Linked DNA regions of Homo sapiens: region 1 is linked to region 2. Evidence: fine-mapped expression QTL. Tissue or cell type: sigmoid colon. Region 2 holds a variant in brackets; the other region holds the start of a gene. All regions are shown on one strand. Distances are from middle to middle.

What was found. PIP is the estimated chance that this variant, and not a neighbour inherited with it, causes the effect.
Region 1: it holds the start of GALNT17, and the variant in region 2 is fine-mapped to the expression of GALNT17 in sigmoid colon (GTEx, PIP 0.96).

What each region holds. Positions count from the first base shown.
Region 1 is chr7:71,127,137-71,135,466 of GRCh38, reverse strand. It overlaps GALNT17 (polypeptide N-acetylgalactosaminyltransferase 17), which reads right to left and starts at 3,323. Exons shown (of 11, transcript NM_022479.3): 1 at 2,427-3,323. The coding sequence starts at 2,664.
Region 2 is chr7:71,361,182-71,369,511 of GRCh38, reverse strand. The region is part of intron 2 of GALNT17 (polypeptide N-acetylgalactosaminyltransferase 17); the gene reads right to left. Among named protein-coding and RNA genes, the nearest start is that of MIR3914-1, 58 kb to the right of the region's middle. The variant A/G (reference allele first, on the strand shown) is at 4,435.

The DNA.
Region 1 (8,330 bases), 230 kb after region 2:
TTCAGGCGGGTGTCAGAGCACCCATCTCGCAAGTCATTGTAAAGATTCAGTGGGTTCATGTATGTCTGTGGCAAGTAGAAAGTAGCCTCCTAACCTCCCTTCACCTAGTTTTCTCATTTCTCAACTGGGGATGGGTGGAGCCTCTCTGGACAGATGTGAACATACAGTGAGATAATGCACTTGTAATGTCTCTGCACACATCTGGCACACAGCAAGAATTCCATCAGTTATTATTATAGAATTTTATTATTCCTATGAGGGAAGTTAGGGTACAGCTATATAATATTTAATGCTCCTAATTGAAACTAATACTGGGGCCAGGCATGGTGGCTCACGCCTGTCATCCCAACACTTTGGGAGGCCCAGGCAGGAGGATTGCTTGAAGCCAGGAATTCGAGACCAGCCTGGACAACCTAGCAAGACCCTGTGTCTACAAAAAATTAAAAAATTAGAAGGGCATGGTGATGCACACTTGTAGACCCAGCTACTTGGGAGGCTAAGGCCAGAGAATGACTTGAGCCCAGGAGTTTGAAGCTTCAGTGAGCTATGATTGCACCACTGCACTCCAGCCAGGGGGACAGAGCGAGAAGACCCTGTCTCAAAAAAAAAAAAAAAAAAAAAAAAAAAAAAACCATAAAACAAAGAAACTGATACTAAACTAACCTGTGTCCCTGAGAAAAGCCTGATGAGGGAAACCAGGTTAACCTTTGAAGTTCCTATGGGTATGTCTACAGCAGGAATCTATCCCAAATTATAAGGCCACCCCGTAAGTTTCTGATTCCTCCAGAAATGAACTATGGGTTTTTGTCGCATTCTGTGCCATATTTCTGACACCTGAGAGAAGAGCTTCTGCATAACTTCCGTGGGCTACCCTGACAGTCAGGCCATATACCCTGCAAGTTCAAGGCATCCCCTGGATATCTGTCAAATGGCTTCGAGAAGACCGCAGCGTCCTTTCACCTGCTCAGAGATCTGACCACCCCTCTCCCTCCATCCCATCCCTCCCCCAGTACCCAGCAGGGACCTTTGGTGAGCCTGAAAAGAACCATTTGCCATCCTCCTTCTCCCTGCCCCTTGCCACCACAGTGAAGACAGTTGAGATCCTCCAATGTGAGAAGGTATATGTCTGTATTTGCAATTCCACATATTTCTGTTTTCAACAAACCTAATACTCCTTTCACTTAGGGGAAAACCATGGATAGAAGTTTGAGCCTAAGAGGTCAAGCGCACAGGCTCTGTGGTCAACCAGACACAGGGTTCTGACTCCAGACTCTATTATTATTCCGATTACAGAGGTTTGGGGCGCAGTTATATCTTATTTAACACAGGGCAACTTAGTTAACCTCCCCTCGCTTAGTCTTCTCATTTCCCCTCTGTGGATGGGTGGAGCCTCGCTGGACAGATGTGAACATACAGTGAGATAATGTACTTGTAATGTCTTTGCACGCATCTGGCACAGAGCAAGAATTCCATCAGTTATTATTATCACGATCTTCGTGATTATCTGCAGTTCGTTTGAGAACATGAGTTACAAGCTCAGAAAGGGAGGAGGTAGTCTGTACCTAAGTACGTATCTGCCTTGGATAACCCCACGCATCCTGGAAACCTGCCTGTACTCAGGTAGGTAACACTCACTCTGACGTTGGGGACAGCTAGTGTCCAATGACCTGGCCCAGGTGTGACAAGAGCACATAAAAAGTCTCCCTCTTCTCCTGAAGTACTGAGCACAACATTTTAGATGGGACAGATTCAGACAACTGTCACTAATGGGATGCCACATCTCTCTGTGCTACATTCTGGAAACTTCGCAGGCCCACCCTGAGCTTTAACAATCGCCCCTCCGCAGCCCCCAAGGAGAAACACAGGCGGCAGGAAGGGAGGAGTCCTCATTCTTAGCTGAGCAGCTCGCCTCATAGACAGATGACATATTCCTCCCATATACTACCTAAGCGCATTAGCTCCGCGACCTGGGGCCTTGACTTTGTCTGCAGACATCCAAGCCCTCCAATCTCCCAGGTTCCCTACTGGTACCCCACCAAACGCTGGGCTCTAAGACTATTTCCTCCTACACGTCTGCCCGCGCGCCTCCAGTCCCATGTGGCCCCTCCACTAGTTTCTGCGCTCGGGCTGGAGTCGCCAGGGAATGATTTCCAGTCCGCACGCGGGGACCGGGAGCCAACTGTACTGACATGTTTCCAGGATAAAACCAAATTTGCAGGTGGGGCACAGAAAAGAATCAGGCAAGTTGTTCTTTCCAGCAGCCCCGGCCATCTGCCCGAAACGGGGCAGGAAGGGTAAGAAGGAGCGCGCGGGAGCCAGGGTGTGCCGGCTCCCAGGCACAGGGCGCAGCGCGCAAGGACCCTGGGGCTCACCCTGTGCCCGGCCCGCCCGCGTCGAGCCCCGGAGGCGCCGGCGTGCGTCCTTACCATTCAGCTGCCGGTACACGATGTCCTCCAGCAGCGACAGGCGCTTCAGGACCGCATCCTGGATGGGGCTGGCGCTGTGCGCGCTGAGGTTGGCCACCTCGGCGCGCGGCCGGATCTCGTGGAAGGCGTCTCCGCTGCGCACCGCGATGGGCCGGCACTTGGCCAGGAAGAGCACGAAGCCGGCTACCGCGATCAAGTTCAACACCAACAGCACTTTGACTCTTCTCAGTGAAGCCATCAAACAGCCCGGCCGGCCCTCGCCCCGGACCTGCGCCCCCTCGGGCTCCGGCGAGGCGCGGGGCAGCCAGGGGCCGTGCAAGCCTCACACACCAGACGGCCGGCAGGGATCCAAGCCCCTGCTCGTCCCACCTCAAGGATGCTCGGGCGGCGGAGACGGCTGGGAGGTCGGATTGGTGGTGGGGAGAACGGAATCGCTCACATGGAAGTCCTCGCTCTGCAGAAGTGCTCCCCGAGACGCCTGCTCAGTCCACGGCGCACGGCCCCGTCCAGGCGTCTCCGCGAAAGGCCAGGGATTTGAGGGTTTCTCTTCTGCACCAGCAAGTGGTTCGCCTCTGGACCTCTAGCCGCCGGCGCCGCGGACTCCGAGGCCGGCAGGCGGGGCTGCCCGGGAGGCACAGAGGGAGCGGCGCACAGGTGCCGGACTCAGGGATCGCCGCCCGCCCACGGCGGAGCGCGCCGCGCCTGGGGCCGCACAGCCTCCCACCTTGGCCCGCAGGCGGCCGTCGCGGCGCGCCACCCGCGCTCTTCAGCGGAAGACCCGCTCCCCCGGGCAGGCGCCTTTGTTCCGCTCACCGACCCGCTCCATCGCGCCGGGCAGAGGGGAAGCCCGCTCGGGGAGCCCGCATCCTCCAGGCTCCGCAGTCACGCTCAAGTCTCAATTACTCTCAAAGTGGGGGCAGCACTAGGGGGCGGGCGCCGGGCCGAGCGCTACGTCCTCTCCGCCCCCCGCGCGGAGTCCACCCCACCCCGCCGGCAAACTCACCAGCGCTCACAGCGCCGCCGGCTCCCGGACACGTTCCAAGCCCCCAAACCGCGCCGAGAGCCTTCGGGGCCTTCAGGGCACACCGGCCTGTCTCGGAGCTGGCGCGTCGCGAGGCTGGCCGGAAGGAGTCGGACCTCAAAAGTCACAGCAGTTCTCTACCCCCTCCCAAAACGTCGCGGGCAGCGCGGCGGGGAGGTACGCGTGCCGAATCACCCTCCGCTCGCCAGATCCGGCCGCGCGGCTCGTCCCGCGCCCCCGGGAGCCAAAACGCCGAGTCTCCCAATTGGCGGACGCGGTGACACCGCCGCTGCGGCACCGAGAGCCACACAGCCCCGGAGCTGAGGAGCCCGGAGGGGACGCGCAGGTGGCGGCGGAGGGCGGGGCGCGGCCCGAGGGGAGCGGCGGCGGCGCCAGCTCCTCCTCCGCCGCTCTTCGCCACCCTGTCCCCGAGAGGCTGTCGGCGGCCGCCGCCGCCGCCCGCAGGCTGCCGAGCGCACAGCTCCCCGGTTCGCCGACTCGTGCGCGCGCGCACCCGGGCAGGGCGGGGGCTTCTGGAGAGTGGGGACCGCGCGGGATGGAGGCAGTCAAGGCATGCTGGCTGCGGCCGGCGCTGGAGGGACCCTTTAGTTCTCAGTACTCCCTGAGCGGGCGGGTTCGTTCCATCCCGGTTGGCGATGAAGACATCCTTTTCTGTGTGCTCGCGGCTCCGCGCTGCGTGGCCAGGAATGGCTAGAGGGAAAATCTGGCCTGGAGGCTCGGATTCTGAGACCTTCGGAGCCAGGCCGGGCGTGAGCGGGCTTGGGGGGGTTCTCTGCGTGCAAGAATTCTAACCTCCCCAGTCACTGCTTCTAGGCCCACCCGCTGCTCTGTTCAAATTTTATTATAAGAAGCATATTCATTTGGCTCCTGGTTTTCCACTACCTCTTCCTCTTCCCAAAACCCAGGAACTCGAAATACTGGAATTCAACGCCCCCCCACCCCGGTTGATCCATTTAATTCCTTGGGTCTAAAATAGAAATCAGGCCGCCAACTAATAAAAATCGGGCAGCAAAGCTAAATGGAGCTGATCGTTTTCCCCTCATCATTTTGATCTCATTAAAGTTTTTGTTTTTGTTTTTGCGGTTGTTTTGGTTTTTTCTGGGGCTTGGTTTCTTGTTTTGTTTTTGCCTGTGTATTATTTTAAGTTTTGATTTTTAACATAGAAATGTATATGCAAAAAAATAGTCTTTTTATTTCATTCCCTTGGAATTCTCTGCCTGGGTGCAATCGGGTCCTCAGGGCGCATGCTTTGTAAAATCTACCTGAAAGTGGACACAAAACAGTTAAAAAGGCCCAAGGGATGATTTTTAGCCACACATGTTAGGCAAGAGAGAGGCTGTGTGGGAAGAAACTTGGGTTACTGAGCATCTCATGGAGTATCCAGTTGAGTTGGGTGTTATTATAACCACACTACAGATGGAGCTAGCACAATCAATGGAAGCTTCTGCAAAAATAATTTTTGAACATTCACTCAGCCGCAGGACTGAAGCCAGGGAGGCTGAGGCATTGGGCTAGGGTGCCCGAGAAGCAGTAAGTGGCTCTAAGTATGTGCTTGAGGCTGACTCTCAAGCGTGTGCATATTTGGGAGTGGAAGACAGGAAACAAAGTAGAGGAAACAGCCTCAGAGTAATCGAGAAGTTTCCAGGCAAATTTCAATTTCAGAGAGATTTCTGTGCTTTCTCTAAAGCCAGAGAGGTCCCTGATGCAAATTAACTTTTGGCTTTATCATGCATCCTCCAGGAGCCTCCTCTCAGCTCCTGCACGCATTCTGGGCAGCTTCTGTGTTCAAAAATGACACTGGACACTACTCAATGAGTGACCCACTGTCATGGCCTCATCCTGAACCCTGTATTCACAGAGGAGCCTTCCACTCCTGCAATCCTGCACTAAAATCCCAGCCTGTTATTACTGTTCCCTAGCTTTTTACCTCTCCCATTCTCAACTCCAAACAAACATATTCTCCAGCCAACAACTTCCTTCTCCTTCCCAGGTGTCCATGCCTCTCTATCCCCTCTGGAGTTCCTTCCCTCCTCTTTCTGGAGTTCATGGTTAGTCATTTATTTCAAACACATTCCTAATAGGGCCTGCTATTAAGGATCATGCACATGTATATCATATTTTTCCACTGCCCCAGCCTAGCAATCCCCAACTCTGAATCAATTTCACCTTCTTCTTTCTCAACCCAAGGACAAAGGCAAGAGCAAGTGTACCCAGGGAAAAACCACATCATCTCAAAGCCTGCAGGCATTTCCAATTGGTGGTGTCTAACCTTACCTGGGCCTTCGATTCTACTGAAAAGCTCTATTCCATGTCCCTAGCCAGCTCCTCTCCCTAGAGACACCCTAGCTAGACTTCAGGAGTTCATGAATAGCTCTCAATCAGATGAAAAAGTGTATCTGCATGTTACATAGACATTTTTCTGGGGAAAAGACCTGTAAGTTTCATCAGATTCTCAACATAGTCAATGACCCTAAAAGTTTAAGGACCTGCCTAGCATGTTATATATGCAAAAACATAATCAACTAAACGTTTATTATATACCAGCTGCTTCTGAAACCAACAAAACTACACTTCAGTGGCTGTGTGGTCTGCTCGCCATAAGGTCTGGGTTCCAGTCCCATTTCGGTCACCAAAGAATAAATCTGTTCTTGACTTTAAAAGAAGAAATTTATCTTGGATGGCACCCAAAACCATTCCCAGTCATAAAACTCAGTTTAACTACAAAAGCTTTATCAAAAGAGTTTCTTTGGTTGGTTGGTTGAGCAAACTGAAAGGAAAGAGACCAATGGTATTTCTGTGCAAGGATTTTTTATTTCAAATACATTTTTCACTCAACCATGGTTCAAATAACATATGCCTTTGACATGACTCTGTCCCCTTTGTTTGTCTGTTAAAAATGTATCGCATCTCATCTGAGTCCATAACAGGAGTTAAAATACTTGGAGTTTCGCCAAGGGAAACCAGGGACTCATCTCTCTACAGAGGTTTGGCCAACTCATTTACTCTTGCTAGAATTCGCGAGGCAAAGCCTTCACTCTCATAAAACCCTGAGCATTGCAAAAGATACTGGAGTTTTGGTTGTTATAATTTCAACTTTCATTTTAGACACAGAGGGTATACGTGCAGGTTTGTTACATGAGTATATTGTGTGATGCTAAGGTTTGGGGTACGGATTCTGTCACCCAGGTACTAATGAGCATAGTAACCAATAGAACCAATAGGTAGTTTTCTTTCTTTCTTTCTTTCTTTTTTTTTTTTTTTTGAGAGAAGTCTTGCCGTTGCCCAGGCTGGAGTGCAGTGGCACGATCTGGGTTCACTGCAACCTCCACCTCCTGGGTTCAACCGATTCTCCTGCCTCAGCCTCCCAAGTAGCTGGGATTACAGGCAGGGCCACCACGCCTGGCTAATTTTTGCATTTTTAATAGAGATGGGATTTCGCCATGTTGGCCAGGCAGGTCTCGAACTTCTGACCTCAGGTGATCTGCCTGCCTCGGCCTCCCAAAGTGCTGAGATTACAAGAGTGAGCCACTGTGCCCGGCTGGTAGTTTTTCAATCCATTTCCCCCCCACCCCCCTTGTAGTAGCCCCAGTGTCCATTGTCCCCATCTTGATGTCCACACATACTCAATGTCTAGTGCCCGCTTATAAGTGAAAACATGCAGTAATTGGTTTTCTGTTCCTGCGTTAATCCTCTTAGGATTATGGCCTCCTACCTGCAGGGTGTTTTTTATTTTGTTTTGTTTTGTTTTTTGGACGGAGTTTCTCTCTTGTCGCCCAGGCTGGAGTGCAATGGCATGATCTCGGCTCACCACAACCTCCGCCTCCCAGGTTCAAGCGATTCTTCTGTCTCAGCATCCCGAGTGGCTGAGATTACAGGCACATGCCACCACACCAGGCTAATTTTTGTATTTTTTTTTTTTTATAGAGACAGGGTTTCTCCATGTTGGTCAGGCTGGTCTTGAACTCCTGACCTCAGGTGATTTGCCCACCTCAGCCTCCCAAAGTGCTGGGATTACAGGAGTGAGCCACCGCGCCCAGCTACAGATTTTTTAAAGGAGGAAACAAAAAGACATGAATCTACCTCCCCGCTTCAAGAATTCACAGTGTAGCAGTGGTGGGGAGCTTACACGGGAGATAAGTAAACAGGGAGAGACCAAGCTGTGCTGACTGTGCTCAGTGCCTAGGTATTGTGTGTCAGGCATTGTACATGCATCAGCCTAGCCTCACCATTGAATCTGCTGTGTGACCTTGAGCAAATTACCTCACTTCTCTGGGCATTACCCATTTTTATTTTTCTAGCTGTCAAACAGGAATAATATCCATAATATTACCTCTTGAAGTTGCAAGCATAAATGAGCTAATATGTGTAAATTGCTTAGCTCAGTGCTAGGCATCTAATAAGCACCATGGAAATAAACAAAGACCACCCAAGTGAGGACAAGCAAAGGCTGTCTATTCTGAGCTTGCTATTGCAAGGGAGTCAGCCATCATTCCTTGCATGTGGTAGAAACTCAAAGGCAGGCAGAGGAAAGAAAAGAAAAACTTCTAGGGGCTGAGCGAGGTGGCTCACGCCTGAAATCCCAGCACTTTGAGAGGCCAAGGTGGGCAGATCACCTGAGGTCAGGAGTTCGAGACCAGCCTGGCTAACATGGTGAAATCTTGTCTCTGCTAAAAATGCAAAAATTAGCTGGGCGTGGTGGGACACCTCCCAGCTACTAGGGAAGCTGAAGCAAAAGAATTACTTGAACCCAGGAGACAGAGGTTGCGGTGGGCCAAGATCGCCCTACTGCACTCCAGCCTGGGCGACAGAGTGAGTTTCCATCTCAAAAAAAAAAAAAAAAAAAGAAAGAAAGAAAAGAAAAA
Region 2 (8,330 bases):
AACCTTCCTCCAACTAGCAGTGCCTTCCTTTCCAAAACCCCACAGGGAAGATCTCCTACGAACTTGGAGACTGCCATATTAACTTTACTCCTCACACTTTGGGCTATTGAGGAAGCTATAGAAATGGTAGTGGATACATGAGGCAGGAACTCAGGGTAGCAACAATAAATCTCTCCATAGCCTTTGTTCCTGACTCTTACCCTTTGCATCCCTAGCCTACAGGTTCCATGAGGTCAGGGACCACTAATCTTTGGCTGATATATCTACTGACATAGGTTAGGCTCATCCCAGATACTTGATAAGTATTGGTTTAATACATTAATCAATGTAACAGAGAAAAGGCATTCTGGTCATGTGTACTAAGAGTAGGTTGTGCAGAGCACAGAGTTCTAGTATTCTAGGACTTATTGAAGAACCTATAATTGTAGAAATACTGATTCCCCTCCCAGGATATCTCATTCCTGGCTGAAAATGCCACATCAGATCACTGGAGAAGAAACTCATCTCTTGCTGAGGATGGTGACTTTATTTAATTCCGATTCTTATTTCATCTCAGTGGTAAAAGCTAGGAGAGAGGAACACCCCCCCCCACCCCCGAGGAAACTGGGCAGTATAGATACGCCTCAATGCTTATCACTGATGGAGGGCCATGCCTAGCCTTTGATTTTAATATGGATCTTGTATCAGTTTAAAAATCTGTTTCTTCCTTCTTAACACACCGAAGAACAAGTATGTCTATATCACCCAGAAACATTAGCTTAACTGTGACATTTGCAAACACTGAGCATCAATTATGGGCAAGCAAAGTGTTGAGGATACAGAAATTTCTAAAATCTCACTGTTATTCTGGAAAAGCTCACAGCTCCTTAAGAAAAAAATATATATGTAAATCATAATTATGACACGGAAGGATAAATGCGACAAGAGACGTTTGTTCATCCTGCTCTGGGAGCTTATTTCTGCCTTCAAGGAGATCAACGGGGCCCAGGGAAGGTTTCACAGAGGTGACAAAATTTGAACTGGGTCATGAAGCATGAGTAAGTAATTTCCAGGTGAGGGCCTGCAAAGGGGGAGACAGGAAGACGGGAAAAACTCTCTAGGAAAAAAATGAATAGCATGTGTAAAAACAGAGGAGAGAAAATGTACAATGTACCGCCAAGAAACTGAAATAGATGTTTCAGGAAGGGACTGAGGCGAGGAAAAGAAGACAGCAGTGTACCAGGTGTTCTGAAGCCACCTTATAAAATTCAGACTTGATCCTCCAGTCATGGGAAGTCCCAGTGTCAAGGGTTTTAGACCAGAGAAGTGACATTACACAGAGCATGTGTGTTAATCAAAGAACAACATAGCATCCCTTCAGGTCCAACCAAGATGCGTGTGTGCACGCTCTCTTCCCCAGATCACAATCCTCCCCCTCCCCACGTCTGTTCTTCGGCTCCTCCCACGGCCCCAGAGATTCTGCCACTGCCTTTTGGCCCCAAGCAATGGGGAATGTGTGGAGACATCTTCCGTGGGCAGTCAGAACTGGCTCAGAGAGCCCAAGTCCTCTCCTAGGGTCCAGTGCTCTGGCTGGTGACCTGCTAGTTCTCTGTGTGGCTCCATCACAAGTCCCCTCTTCCTTATTCTGAATAAAGACCACCAGTAAAAGGTACTTCCTTGACCACATAACTTACCTAATTAACAATGGCAGCTTGTTCTATGCAGCTGACTGCATCGTTGGCAGAAAACGGTGTTTTCCAGCCTAAATCATCAGAACTACAAACAAGGCATTTGGTCTGATAGGAAGAGCCCCAAATAGAAGGGGGCATTTGACCCCTGAAATTAAATTTGAAAGGAGCTGGTGGACTCGTCAGTGGCTAGTGAGACCAGTCAAAGAAATTGGCAACTCACTAGATCTGATTTCTCAATTTCCCGGTGGCCTCAGGCATTGGGGGCCCCACTGTAACCTGGAACCATCTGTTAAAGGCAAACAACCACATAGATTAGGGACACTTGTCTGGAAACCACCAACAAACATGTCAAACAGAAGGGAAGCTCGGTCTATACCAAATAGGTTCCCTTCTCGGCTGTCATTATGATGTGTGGTCCAAATGCCAGTGGTCCAGACTGTCCCCTTCCCACCTCCCCTGCACACATGTCAAGGTAAACCCATGGCCAGCGCTTGGGATTTGGGGTTTCCACCTATATGTTTTTTGGTCCCATACCCTTCATCAGTTTATCCTCAGGCTAACACCCAGCTAGAACCTACTGATGTTTTACAAAGATACTCAGAAGCCTATAAGGAAGAAGTATTGATGAGGAGAGGCAAGAGAAGTAGATGGATAAGATTACGGCAGTGGTTTTACAAGAGACATGAAGGAATCCAGGGTCAAAGAGGAATGTTTTTTATTGATCAAAGGTATTGCTTGAGACAATTAAATAGTCATGAATATACATACCTAACAACATAGTTCACCAATAGGTAGAACAAAATGTATTGAAAATCCATGAACTAAAAGACAAAAAGTCTCGGTCCGAGTGAGTGATATGAACAAATGTCTCTCAGAAATCAACAGAAGGAACCCACATATTCAATAAATACATGAAGAGATGATCAACCTCTGTAATAGTCAAAGAAAGGCATCCAAGAACTATAAAGAAATATTTTTTTAGCCTTCAGGTTGGCAAAACAAATGAAGACTGGTCTTACCTAGGGAGTCAGGTGTGAGGAAGGCCACTCATGTACTGTTGGGTGACATATAAACAGGCAGAGTCCTTTAGAGAGCAAGTCGGCAGAATCTTTCAAGATTAAAAATGGACATGTCTAACATATTCATGCATAAGAAAACAGCAGAAGGACACACAAGAAACAGCCAACAGTAGTCACCTTTGCTGAGAAGAGAGAGATCTGGGGCTGGGGCTTGAAGAGGATTTCTTGTTTGTTTGTTTGTTTGAGACAGAGTCTCGCTCTGTCGCCAGGCTGGAGTGCAATGGCACGATCTCAGCTCACTGCAACCTCCGCTTCCCAGGTTCAAGCAATTCTCCTGTTTCAGCCTCCCGAGTAACTGGGATTACAGGCGCCCGCCACCATGCCTAGCTAATTTTTGTATTTTTAATAGAGACAGGGTTTCACTATGTTGGCCAGGATGGTCTCGATCTCTTGACTTCGTGATCCACTCGCCTCGGCCTCCCAAAGTGCTGGTACAGGTGTGAGCCACCGTGCCCAGCCGAGGGTTTCTTTTTCTATGTATACACCTAGATCACAGGTCCCCAACCCCTAGGCCTCGGAACAATACCAGTCTGTGACCTGTTAGAATCCAGGTCACACAGCAGGAGGTGAGCGTCAGGAGAGTGGGCAAAACTTCTTCTGTATTTACAGCCTCTCCCCATCTACTCACGTGACCACCTGAGATCTGCCTCCTGTCAGCTCAGCAGCAGCATTAGATTCTCGTAAGAGTGCAAGCCCTATCGTGAACTGAGCATACGAGGGATCTAGGTTGCGAGCTCCTTATGAGAATCTAATGCCTGATGATCTGTCACTGTCTCCCATCACCCCCAGATGGGACCGTCTAGTTGCAGGAAAACAAGCTCAGGGCTCCCCATGATTCTACATTGTAATGAGTTGTGTAATTATTTTATTATATATTACAATGTAATAATAATAGAAACAAGTGCACAATCAATGGAATGAGCTTGAATCATCCCCAAACCAACCCACCCCTCACCCCCAGTTCATAGAAAAATTGTCTTCCATGAAACCAGTCCCTGGTACCAAAAAGGCTGGGAACTGCTGATCTAGACAATTCATAAATAACATATTCAACTGTCATTTGGATACTTTCTTTAAATTAAAAAAAAAAGAATTTAAAACTCTATTAAAACTATTAAATTTGGCAGGAAATCATAGGAGACATCTGCACATTTCAATACAGTGCTTACTATGCTGAGCTGTGGAGGGAGTGATGGATGCAACAGATTAAAACTATTCCTCCTGGGTGGGCGCTGTGGCTCACGCCTATAATCCCAGCACTTTGGGAAGCCGAGGCGGGTGGATCACCACAGGTCAAGAGATTGAGATCATCCTGGCCAACATGGTAAAACCCCATCTCTACTAAAACTACAAAAAATTAGCTGGGAGTGGTGGCGCACGCCTGTAGTACAGGTATTCAGGAGGCTGAAACAGGAGAATTGCTTGAGCCTGGGAGGCAGAGGTTGCAGTGAGCTGAGATCGCACCACTGCACTCCACCCTGGCAGCAGAGCGAGACTCTGTTTCAAAAAAACAAAAACTATTCCTTCCATGACCGGATGTGGTGGCTTATGCCTGTAATCCCCGTGCTTTGGGAGGCTGAGGCAGGCAGATCACTTTAGGTCAGGAGTGTGAGACCAGCCTGGCCAACATGGTGAAGCCCAGTATCTACTGAAAATACAAAAGTTAGCCAGGCATGGTGTTGCAC[A/G]GGCCTGTAATCACAGCTACTTGGGAGGCTGAGGCAGGAGAACCGCTTGAACCCAGGAGGCAGAGGTTGCAGTGAGCCAAGACCATGCCACTGCACTCCAGCCTGGGGGACAGAGTGAGACTCCATCTCAAAATAAAAATAATAAAAAAAAGTATTAAAATGATTCCTTTTAGAAATCTGGGAATGCAGGGGAAAGATAGGAGAAGGGAAGTAGATTAAAGAAGCGGAATTTTCACTTGGCATTCAGCCCCAGCAAATGAGTTCCTCTCATCTTACATTCCTACATCTTTAAAGAATTTTGCTCTCCACTCAGCCAGCAGGTGGGATTGTAAGCAGAAAGCATGCTAAGCTCTAGTAGGCAAAGTCATGCCTTCTTCAAAATGAGTGTCCTGACATACCTCCCTCTTTTCTCCCTAAGACAGTTTTGCTCCCTGACTCCATGCCTGGGTTTAAAAATTGCTTTAATGAGTCATTGAAAACGGGTTCTAATGAAAAATATTTAGTCACACATCTGCACTACCCCATAAAATGTTCTACTTTCCTCACTGGTCCAAAGGAATATTGCCAGGAATGCCATTTACCTGGCAAAATGGTATGTTGCCTTGGGAATCCCACCCCATACAACGACCTCACAGAAGAGAGGCAGAATTAGGCCCAGCAGGATATTGGTGGAGGGCACTGAGTCCTGTGAAAACCAGGACTGAAGCGAGACACTCCATCCAGGACACTCAGAGAAGGAAAAGATAAAACTGTGTGGGAGCACCAAGATCCTACATGCCAAGAACTGAGGAAGGCAGAACACCAAATCTGTACTGAGGCCTGACTTCAAATCTCTGGCCTGCCACTAACTACTGTTAAATTAAGTTTAGCCTAATAAGAATGATACAATGGACTTTGGGGACTTGGTGGTAAAAGTGGGAGGGGAGGTGAGGGATAAAAGGCTACAAATAGGGTGCTGTATATACTGCTCGGGTGATGGGTGCACCCAAATCATCACTAAAGAACCTACTCATGTAACCAAATACCACCTGTACCCCAATAACTTATGGAAAAAAACATGTATATATGTAAGTTTAGCCTAAAGCTGCCTCCTTGCATACTTTAAGTTAAACCTCAAGGTTTCTCCATAAATAGTGGACTGTAACCTTACTGGATATGGAAACAAACTGTCACCTATTCTTGTGCCAATCACTGAGTTTCGGCCAATCAAAGGTGGCCAACTGTTCAAACTGTGCTCAAGTAAGGCAAACACTGAGCTGTAATCAAGAAGCTGCTTCTCTACCTTGCTTCTGTTTTCCGTCCACCACTCTCCTTTTGCTGTCCTTAAATCTTTATCCACCACGCGGCTGTCCGATCTGCGAATCCTTCTTTGCTCAATTAAACTCTGTTTCATTTAATTTGTCTAGGGTTTTCTTTTTAATATCAGCTATACGAAAGTTACTTAACTGCTGGAAGGGAATACTAAAGAAGGCTGGTTTTGAAGTCGGAGAATGAAGAAATCAGAGAATGGAGCAGAATTCCAAGTTGGGGAGATCATCATGGACACAGAAAGGTCTCAATCAAAGGGAATGGGGGTGATGGAGCTGTCCAGAGAAAGCCGCCAAACTGGCGGCTGGCATTGGCTGCTGGTCTCACTAGAGTGACCAGGACACAACGTGTGTTTGCAAAAGATTGCTCTGCTCTGAGGGTAAGGACTTTGCCTCTCAATCACCACTGTATTTTCCAGTGCCTGGTGCATTTCAGGGTACACCATCTACACTCCAAAACTATTGCTTATTGAGTACATTAACACATTAGAAATGGAACAAAGTGGCCAGGTGCAGTGGCTCACGACTGTAATCCCAGCACTTTGGGAGGCCGAGGTGGGTGGATCACTTGAGGTCAGGAGTTCAAGACCAGCCTGGCCAACATGGTGAAACCCTGGCTCTACTAAAAATACAAAAATTAGCCAGGCATCGTGGTGCGTGCCTGCAATCCCAGCTACTCAGGAGGCTGAGGCAGGAGAATCACTTGAACCCAGAAGATGGAGGTTGCGGTCAGCTGAGATCGGGCCACGGCACTCCAGCCTGGGTGACAATGTGAGACTCTGCCTCAAAAAAAAAAAGAAAGAAAGAAAGAAAGAAATGGAAGAAGGTGTGGAGGGCAACATGTTCAGGGGTCCTGTATTTAGAGTTGGGGAAAGGAGTGTTCAGCGTGGCTGAGATTTACACAGCATCAAACAACCCGTGTACGGTCTTTCAGTCAAGACCTGAGTCGCCCTTTGAACAGTAGCAAATCAGCCATGTTTCCTTCACGACTCACGGGGAAGGCTTTCAGCGGGGCAGGGTTAGGTGGAGCGTTTCCCGTAAAAATATACACAAATGGATTTGTTTTCTTGGGGCACTTTTGCCAAGAAAAATGCCACTAAATCAGCATCTTGGCCATGAAAAAAAGCAACAGCAAGTCTTCATCTGAATCACACAGCCACGTGGGATGCGTTCCCTTAGGCCTGTGCACAGGCATTAAGGAGGCAAAATGGGATCAATGAATTTCTTTGTTAATCTTGATATTTGCAGGAAGCCAGCGAACCAAGCACTCTGCAAATCACCAGCTTTAATCTTCAGAATTACTTATACTGCCATTTAGGAGAATTTTGTTTTCTGGGGAGATCTGCACACAGCAGGCGGCAAACATTCTAATTGCTGTTAAGTACATTTGGTGTAATATGTTGGGGGAAATGTAGTCTTTGAATCAGTTAAGCATGAACACACATGCTCAGGGGCAGAATGTAAGTTTGTACACAAAGAAGTGATTTAGTCACAAAGACAAAATCTCATACAAAGCCGGGCGCGGTGGCTCACGCCTATAATCCCAACATTTTGGGAGGCCGAGGCAAGTGGATCACTTGAGGTCAGGGGTTCGAGACCAGCCTGGCCAACATGGAGAAACCCCGTTTCTACTAAAAATACAAAAAATTAGCCAGGCGTGGTGGCAGGCGCCTGTAATCCTAGCCACTCGGGAGGCTGAGGCAGGAGAATCTCTTGAACCCAAGAGGCAGAGGTTGCAGTGAGCTGAGACTGCACCACTGTACCCCAGCCTGGGCAACTGAGGGAGACTCCATCTCAAAAAATAAAAATAAAAAGTAAAAATCTCATACAGGAAAAGAACCTGCCTCCTCCAGCCATGAACAGCACCTAGCCCAGCCCCAGCCGTAGTTCAATCACATAAACAAACGCCCAAATTGTGCTCAACCTTTTATCTTCCTGCCTGCCCACTCTCTCTCTCTCTCTGTCTCTCTCTCTCTCTCTCTCTGAGTTCATTTGCAGTCAAGATGCAATGCTATTTATAACACATATTGTGCTGGAGTCACCAGGATTTGCAACCTGAAGCTGAAGACATTCAATCTATGCAATAGAAATAAAACTCAACGAAACTCAACATCACAGCTATTTTATTCTGCCAAGTATTATAGCCAGACACATATGCTTCTCCTACTAGATGAAAAAACTCCTCGTAGCCAGGGGGCAGGTCTTGTGCATTTTCACATTCCTTAAGCTCTGAGCTCTGTGTCTACTATATAGTAAATATACAATAGGTATTTGTTGAACTGAATTGAAGATGACTTTCCAAGAATTAGTGAGAAAGAACAGAGAGGAATATCGAAAGGGGAAGAAACCTTCAAGGCGGTCTCAGATAATAGAAATGGTGTCCCTGGGTTTCAAGTGCTAAAACTTCCCATGAGAAGCACACTGATAAAGTCTGTAGGCACCCATATCACAGGTAAAATGCAAGACTCAAATGTTGTTGATAGTGGTTTTTTATTTTTTATTTATTTTGTATTTCAATTGACACCCCCCCAGGTGTTTCTTATGCCCATGAAGTTTTGAGAGTAACTGGTATAGATAGTAAAAACTGTA